Regions from separate parts of the Homo sapiens genome. Here regions 1 and 2 are each linked to region 3. Evidence: fine-mapped expression QTL. A gene starts in region 3. Each other region holds a variant in brackets. All regions are shown on one strand. Distances are between the middles of the regions. Region 1 holds the start of SPDYE4 (speedy/RINGO cell cycle regulator family member E4). Region 2 overlaps PFAS (phosphoribosylformylglycinamidine synthase). Region 3 holds the start of PFAS (phosphoribosylformylglycinamidine synthase).

What was found. PIP is the estimated chance that this variant, and not a neighbour inherited with it, causes the effect.
Region 1: its variant is fine-mapped to the expression of PFAS in monocytes (BLUEPRINT, PIP 0.95).
Region 2: its variant is fine-mapped to the expression of PFAS in whole blood (INTERVAL, PIP 0.97).

The regions. Positions count from the first base shown.
Region 1 is chr17:8,756,861-8,759,619 of GRCh38, reverse strand. It overlaps SPDYE4 (speedy/RINGO cell cycle regulator family member E4), which reads left to right and starts at 1,074. Exons shown (of 7, transcript NM_001394956.1): 1 at 1,074-1,346; 2 at 2,128-2,358. The coding sequence starts at 1,238. The variant C/T (reference allele first, on the strand shown) is at 1,515.
Region 2 is chr17:8,269,376-8,272,134 of GRCh38, reverse strand. PFAS (phosphoribosylformylglycinamidine synthase) reads right to left here. Exons shown (of 28, transcript NM_012393.3): 28 at 1,649-2,759. Among named protein-coding and RNA genes, the nearest start is that of RANGRF, 18 kb to the left of the region's middle. The variant G/A (reference allele first, on the strand shown) is at 1,686.
Region 3 is chr17:8,247,966-8,250,687 of GRCh38, reverse strand. PFAS (phosphoribosylformylglycinamidine synthase) reads right to left here and starts at 1,399. Exons shown (of 28, transcript NM_012393.3): 1 at 1,349-1,399. It overlaps CTC1 (CST telomere replication complex component 1), which reads left to right and starts at 2,632. Exons shown (of 23, transcript NM_025099.6): 1 at 2,632-2,684. The coding sequence starts at 2,652. RefSeq lists enhancers at 1,215-1,971, 2,096-2,215, 2,696-2,722 and a silencer at 2,556-2,605.

The DNA.
Region 1 (2,759 bases), 510 kb before region 3:
GAGTCTCACTCTGTCCTCCAGGCTGGTGTGCAGTGGTGCAATCATAGCTCACTGCAGCCTCAAACACTTGGGCTGAAGCAATCCTCCTGCCTCAGCCTCCCAAGTACTGGGACCACAGGTGTGTGCCACGATTCCTGATTACTTTGTTTATATTTTGTAGAGATGACGTTTTGCTATGTTGCCCAGACTAATCTTGAACTCCTAACCTCAAGTGACGCCCTGCCTTGGCCTCCCAAAGGAGGGAGATTATGAGCAGGAGCCCCTGGGCCTGGCTGAGATTTTCCCCTTAGTCTTTTTATACACAGGATATTTTATTCATAAAATACATAAATAGTAGGCAAATTTTGGGGTCAAGTGAAATAGATATGTTGTAATAGTTGATATATAGACCAGAGTTCCTTAGCTGAACTGGAGGGCAGGCTTTAGGTGATCCATGGATGCCCTGAACTTGTGGACACCATTGAAAATCTGTACGAAACCATGGACAGTCTCCTGTGATTTTCATTCCTCAAAATGTCTCTTGGACTCAAAGATGCCTGAGAGCAAAGGATGCATGTTCCCCTACTATAGGATCCAGGATAGTGAATATCAGTAAACATTCAGCAAAAAAGCTTTGCCACATTGAGTACTTCGACGTAACGTCTCCATTCAACAAGTCAATTTACCCAGGATCTCCTGTATATGTTAATCTCACTCTTGGAAGGACTCATCATTCTGCTTACCCTAAATTTCCTTCCACCTTCCTCCCTCTCTCACCAGACTAGACTCTGAAATGGGAAGGAGAAGCGGGGAGGAGAGCCCAACACCCCCTCAAGTTTAGAGTGGAGAGGACACAGCCTCTGCTGGGACAGGGAAAAGAGGAATGTGGAGACCCTGAGGATGCTTTTGGACAATGCTCAGAGGTTGGGACATTGCCAGGAGATACCGTTCACCCCGGATCTCCAAGAAAAGAGATCAGTCTGGCAGTTACATGTGTTTTTCTTCAAAGTAGTTGCCAGTTTGGAATGACCGATGACATCAGAGATTCCGACTTTCCTGATTGGAAGGACCGGACTCTGGTTGCTTGGGAGTTCAGGTGGACAACAGCAACTTCTCAGAACTACTCTTCACTCCTAACTTCTCCCGAGCCTCTAGAAGAGAAACGCACTCTTCTGGGTCCTAACGGAGTCTGGAAGAAGGCTTTGGACAGAACAGGGACTAGGTTTTGTGGACAGAAACAAAGTGTTTGGGAGAGATTATGGCCAGTGGTCAAGCGCGCCCCCCGTTTGAGGAGGAGAGCCCCCAGCCTAGCACAACGGTACGGTCCCCCGAGGTGGTGGTGGATGATGAAGTGCCAGGACCATCAGGTGAGGTGACTGGAGGGAGAAGCGATGGGAGATGATTGACTGAGGAGAGGGAAGGGGGCCAGTTACTGGGAATCTGAAGCACCTGAGTAGGGTGTGTGGGAAAGAAACGACGGACTCAGGAAGCCAGGGATCGGGGAAGGAGGGTGCAGGGAATGGGGCCAAGCATGG[C/T]CACGTGTAAAGAAAGTCTGGGGAGCAATGAAGGGGGTCAGGAGATGTGCTCAAAAGATGAGAGAGGAAGGCCGAGGCGGACGGATCACGAGGTCAGAAGATCGAGACCATCCTGGTTAACACGATGAAACCCTGTCTCTACCAAAAATACAAAAGTGAGTTGGGCATGGTGGTGCGTGCCTGTAGTCCCAGCTACTCAAGAGGCTGAGGCAGGAGAATCATTTGAACCCAGGAGGCGGAGGTTGCAGTGAACCAAGATTGTGCCACTGCACTCCGGTCTGGGCAACAAGAGGGAGACTCCATCTCAAAAAAAAAAAAAAGAGAGAGAGAGAGAGAGAGCAGACAGAGCTCAAGGGAAGGTTTCCATTTTTCTCCAATTGAAAGTTCTTATCTGTGATGAGGAAATGTTTTGAGGACAGAGAGCCGGAAGAATGGGGAGGTGAGGGAGAGGCAGATGGGGATCAGCAAAGGAGAAAGGTGGAAACATGGCTTGGAGAAGCTGACAGTCTGCGAGGCTTGGGAGGATGGAAGAGTAGTTTGAGGTTCCTGGGTCGGGGCGTCTAAGGTGATCAATGGCAGAAACATGACACCATGGCCTGGTTTCTTCACTCAGCCCCTTGGATAGATCCCAGCCCCCAGCCTCAATCCCTTGGCCTGAAAAGGAAGAGCGAATGGTCAGACGAATCCGAGGAGGAGCTGGAGGAGGAGCTGGAGTTGGAGCGCGCCCCTGAGCCCGAGGACACCTGGGTGGTGGAGACGCTGTGTGGGCTCAAGATGAAGCTGAAGCGAAAGCGAGCATCCTCCGTGCTCCCTGAGCACCACGAGGCCTTCAACAGGCTCCTTGGTAGGAGGATACCCCAAAAAGCACCTCCAACCCTGTTCTTTTAAAAAAGTGGAATCTTTCAATAATCACACTTTCCCAATAAGAAGAATATGCCCTCCTGGGGGATGAGCGCTCCATGCAGGAGGAGGATGCTTAGGAGATAGAGGATTAGGCTAGTCTTAATAAAGGTCTGCACTTGAAATAAGAAAGCTTGGTTTCTGGCCAGGTGCAGTGGCTCATGCCTGAGATCTTGGTGCTTTGGGAGGCTGAGGCGGGAGGATCTCTTGAACTCAGGAGTTTGAAGTTGCAATGAGCTATGATTGCACCACTGCACTCCAGCCTGGTTGACAAGGAAAGACCCTGTCATAAAATAAATAAAATAAAATAAAATAAAAGATAAAAGAAAGCTTGGTTTCAGCTGT
Region 2 (2,759 bases), 21 kb before region 3:
GCCACCTCGCCTGGCTAATTTTTTTTGTACTTTTAGTAGAGACGGGGTTTCACTGTGTTAGCCAAGATGGTCTCGATCTCCTGACCTCATGATCTGCCCACCTCGGCCTCCCAAAGTGCTGGGATTACAGGTGTGAGCCACCACGCCCGGCCCTGGAACATTCTATTTCTTTCTTTCTTTTTCTTTTTTTTTTTTTTTTTGGGACAGACTCTGTTGCCCAGGCTGAAGTGCAGTGGCGTGATCTCGGCTCACTGCAACCTCCGCCTCCTGGGTTCAAGCGATTCTTCTGCCTCAGCCTCCCGAGAAGCTGGGATTATTGGCACACACCACCACACCCAGCTAATTTTTGTATTTTTAGTAGAGACGGGGTTCACCATGTTGGCCAGGCTGGTCTCAAACTCAGGTGATCTACCAGCCTTGGCCTCCCAAAGTGTTGGAATTACAGGCATGAGCCACCGCACCTGGCAGGAACATTGTATTTCTAGAGAGGAATCAACTATTGAAGAATTGGCACCTTCTCCCAAAGGAAGCGCTGGGGAAGTCAGTAGAACACAAAGAACTGGATGAAAGGGATGTAGTAGAATGGCATGAGCCTGCAACGGGCAGGGTTTTCTTTGAACTGGGTGAACAGTCTGGCAGTGGTACGAGGACCCCGACTCCCCAGCCTGGGGAAGATGAGATATGTGAGGTTGAGGTTTGAGAAGAAAAGCCACCACTTGGAGGGGCTGCAGAAGTGGCTCTCAGAGGATAGCTGGTTTTCCATGAAGGCAAGGAGGGAGCAGAGAGCTAGCCTGGAAGGTTCACCAGAGGGCCCTTGGGAGTGGGTGAGTGGGAATGGAGCTGGGTGGGGGTCAGCAAGGACAGGGTTATTTGGTTACTGGATGAAAACACGGATGAAAAGCCAGTGGACTTGGTCTTGATAGTGTCTGAGGAGGGTGGGTCTTACTTGGCCACTGCGACCCAAACCAGAAACTGCTCCCCCTTCAAAATCCACGAGTTTACTTATCACAGCCAACCAGGTTACCTCCCATGCCATCCTTTGACTTTTGCATCAAGCACTTAATAAACTTAATATCTAACCCTTGGTACCAGCCCCCAAATTGTATGTTCGATACTATAAATTTGAAAGACATACATATATCCTTTCCAAGGGTCAGGAAAGAACATTCAAATGTCAAAAATGATCCGGAGGAGTCCCATACTGCTCAGGGTAGGTCGCTTTGCAAAGCAATGAGAAAAATCTCTGAAATAGTTGTTTTCCCCATAGCCATCATTTAACATTGTTTCATTATTATCAGTTTTTTCTCAGGGTGGCTACTCTACCAGGAGCACACAGAAGTGCTCAGCGCCCCCACCCAGCTCTCCTAGCCCTCAGGGATCTGGGATTATAGTCTCCATTCTCAGGCAAACTCCTTTTATCAAGATGTTGAACATTCTAGGGAGCCAACTGACTTGAGGTGTACAACAGAACAGTCATGAGGAAGGGACCTCTATCCACAGTCCTGTGAGCAAAGGAAGCAACAGACAGCTGCCAGCACAAAGTCTCAACACACTGCCTCCAGGAAGTAAGACTGCAGGATGGCGGGAAGCAGATGTAGTATGGGTGCGCCCAGCCCCCCTCACCATCTGTGGACCCCAGGCAATGCAGTCAACCTTCATTCATCCTTTATTGAAAAGGCGGGGAG[G/A]GGCTATCAAGTCCTTTGCTGAATTTTAGTGAGAATTAATTCAGATACATACCAAATGCCTCACACATGCGTGGCTTGAGCTAAGTGTTATACACAGCTATTATTTTTAATTCTATTACACATAAACTCCCTGAGGCCGGTGACAGTGCTTTGCAATAATAACTAATCAACAACAGTCAATGCAGTAAGTGAAGAGTAGAATTCCAGCATACTAAAGGGTTAGGATCTAGGGATGAGAGCCCCAACCACCTCTATCAGAAACAGAGCTGCTGGGCCAGCTGTAGTGGCTCCCACCTGTAATCCCAGCACTTTGGGAGGCCGAGGCAGGCGAATCACTTGAGGTTAGGAGTTTGAGACCAGCCTGGGAGACATGGTGAAACCCTATCTCTACTAAAAATACAAAAATTAGCTGGGTGTGGTGGTGTGTGCCTGTACTCCCAGCTACTCGGGAGGCTGAGGCAGGAAAATTGCTTGAACCCAGGAGGCAGAGGTTGCAGTGGGCCGAGATCACGCCATTGTACTCCAGCCTGGGTGACAGAGTGAGACTGCCTCAAAAAAAAAAAAAAAAAGAGAGCTGCTAATTTAGAAGCAAATAACAGGAATGCTGGGTTCTGAGGCCAGCCCTAAGACAGCCAGAAACGCTGAGAAACTTCCACAAGCAACAATTCCTTACATTCAGTGCAGTGTAGCACTTCAAGAGAAATCCAGAAAGTTTCAGTTCCAGATGAGAACAATGAGGTGGTGAGGGGCTGATCTGCATACTATTGCTGAATTTGTCTGCACCCGCTAACCCCAATGATGAGAAAAGGGAGCGCAAAACATCCCTCAGAGCCAAGGAGGCAATTGCACACCGGTGATCACTGGGTGTTGTGAAGTGGGCAACAGAAGCCCCTGTTCGGACCTCAGGAGTCCTAACTTTTCCTTGTCGCTCTTTTCTCTGAACCACATGCTGTTTCCTGGGCTGAGAAAGGGCATGCCATGTTAGAGCAGAACTGAAAATAGACACAGCCACAGAAGGAACATCAGCAGGCAGATTATCGAGTCCGCTGAGATTTTGGCATTTTGGTCCTTGTC
Region 3 (2,722 bases):
TACAGTTAATACTTTTAGCCTAACATTCAAAGGCCCTCCCCATCTATCCCAAACTACCTATCCAATTTCTGGTCCCACTGCCTCTCAGCGGGACCCTGGCTTTACTCACCAAACTCTGCTGTTCCCCTAGTCTTGCCACTCAGTAAACACTACCATCATCCAATTTGTTGCTCAAGACAAAAACACAGAAGTCATCCTTAATTCTCTTTCCCTCAGACTCTCTAAATCCAATCCACCAGGAAATCTATTTCCAATCATGTCTCAAATCTCTCATCTCTTCATCTCTACTACCTCACTCTAGTTCAAGTAAGCCACCACCATCACTCACCTGGACCAATGCATTAACCTCCTGACCACTGCATAACCACAATTCATTTGTCACACATCAGCATAAAGTGGATTATGGCTTCCCATTACACATGGTATAAATTCCAACTCAGCATCCTGGTTTACCAAGTCTGGCCACTCTCTGGCCTACCTTTCCAACCCTATCTCACACCATTCTCTTTTTCACCCACAATGCACCAACCACACATTAGCTTCTTTTTTATTTCTCTAACTTGCCAAGCTCAGTCCTGGAAGGCATTTTTTTCACCCTGACATATGCATGGCTAGCTCTTGTTATTTAGATTTCTGGTGATTCGCCTTCGTGGAAAAGGCTTCACTAGCCACTCAAGTAGTTACTATCAGATGGCCGGCCCTATTTTAATTTCCTGTAAAGCGCTTATCACTATTGGATGTTTTTATTTTTCGCTCTATATTCCCCACTAGAAAAAAAATCTCTACGTGGGCATGGGATGTTGCTGCTTCGTTTCCATTGAATTACCAAGGCTTAGAACAATACCAGGGCTTGAAACGCAAAAAAATTCTAAAACTTGTGGAATGACTTAATGAACTCTTGATTCTCACCACTCTTCAGCCCCTCCCCAACTTTCAGGACAGTCTTCCTGAAGGCATTTTGTTTATTAAGCCACTTGATTTCCGTCTATCATTCCCAGTAAAATATAAGCTTCAAGAGCTCAGAGACAGGGTTTGCGTGCATGAGGGCTGTATTCCATGACCAGCATGGTGCCTGATATAAAGTAGGCGGCCGGCAGTCTTTCTGTTAGCTGAATCCATGAATGGGACAATGGGGCTAAATTTACATGGGGGTCGGCCATGCCTGGGGTCTGCGGAACGCACGCAAGATAGGACGAATGGACGCCTCCACTAAAGCAAATACGCGGGCACCAAGTAGACACAGCTCGGCCCGGTGGGGATACTGAAGCCGCCAGACCAAGCTTGGGCTAGATGACGAAACGCTGCACCTGGAGGAGGATCCAGGTCCGCACGCGGTAACTATACTCACGTGGAAGATGCACTCGCGGCCACAGAGCACCTCGAATCGTCGCGCGCGTTTGTTACGTCATCCGCGTGCGCCGCGGGCAGAGACTGGACCTGCCAGCGCCGGGGCGACTACGCCCCGCCCACTTTTCCCCAGCCACCCGGCCGAATTCTAGGTTCTTGGTGGGGAGAGGTTTATCCCCAGGTGGTTTCTCCCACAAATCTGTCTTGAACTGACGTTTGTGAAAATACATTCAGTTCCCCGTCCCCGCGGGGACAGTTAAGTAATGACATCAGTTAGTTAAGGCCATAAAGCAAGCATGTGAAAGTTGTGCTTTGGTGGCATTACGAGGAAGCCCTTCTCTGCTTGGCAAGATCAGGGAGACTGAAAGATGCTTAGAAGTCATCCACCAGGCGGGCTGTGTTTGAGTTCCTGAGCTCTGCTACCCCATCCATCTGAAGGCCTGCGGGATGCCGGACAGGATGTCACTTAGGAGGGAGACGGAGGCTGGGCGCGGTGGCTCCCGCCTGTAATCCGAGCACTTTGGGAGCCCGAGGCGGGCAGATCGCTTGAGCCCAGGAGTTCGAGACCAGTCTGGGCAACATGGCGAAACCATGTCGCTACAGAAAAATACAAAAATTAGCCGGGTGTGGCGGTGCAAGCCTGCGATCCCAGCTACTTGGTGGGCTGAGGTGGGAGGATCGCTTGAGCCCGGGAGGTCGAGGCTGCAGTGAACCGAGATGGCGCCGCTGCACTCCAGCCTGGGCGATAGAGCGAGACCTCGTCTCAAAAAAATCAGAGAGGGCCAGGGGCTGTGTTTCACGCCTGTAATCCCAGCACTTTGGGAGGCTGAGGCGGGTGGATCACCTGAGGTCAGGAGTTTGAGACCAGCCTGGCCACATGGTGAAACCCCGTCTCTACTAAAAATACAAAAAAAAAAAAAAAAAAAAAAATTAGCCGGGCGTGGTGGTGGCAGGTGCCTGTAATCCTAGCTACTCAGGAGGCTGAGGCCGGAAAATCCCTTGAACCTGGGAGGCGGGGGTTGCAGTGAGCCGAGATCGCGCCACTGCACTCCAGCCTGGGCGACAGAACCAGGCTTCGTCTTAAAAAAAAAAAAATCAGAGAAAAGAGACAGGGGTGTCGGGAGTTGGGATGGTGCACCGAGGCGCCTCGCGGAGTCTCTAGGAAGCGAGGGGGTGAGCAGCGAGAAGGAGCTGGAGGTGGCGAGGAAACCCGCTCACCGGTGACGTCACCGAGCGCCCCCCCACCCCCATCCCCACCCCCAAGCGAGCACCTGCCCCTCCCGGGGGCGGAGCTCCGGCGCATCATGGCGGCTGGCCGGGCCCAGGTCCCTTCCTCCGTGAGTGCTGCTATTACGTCTCTTGTTCCTTTTTTCTT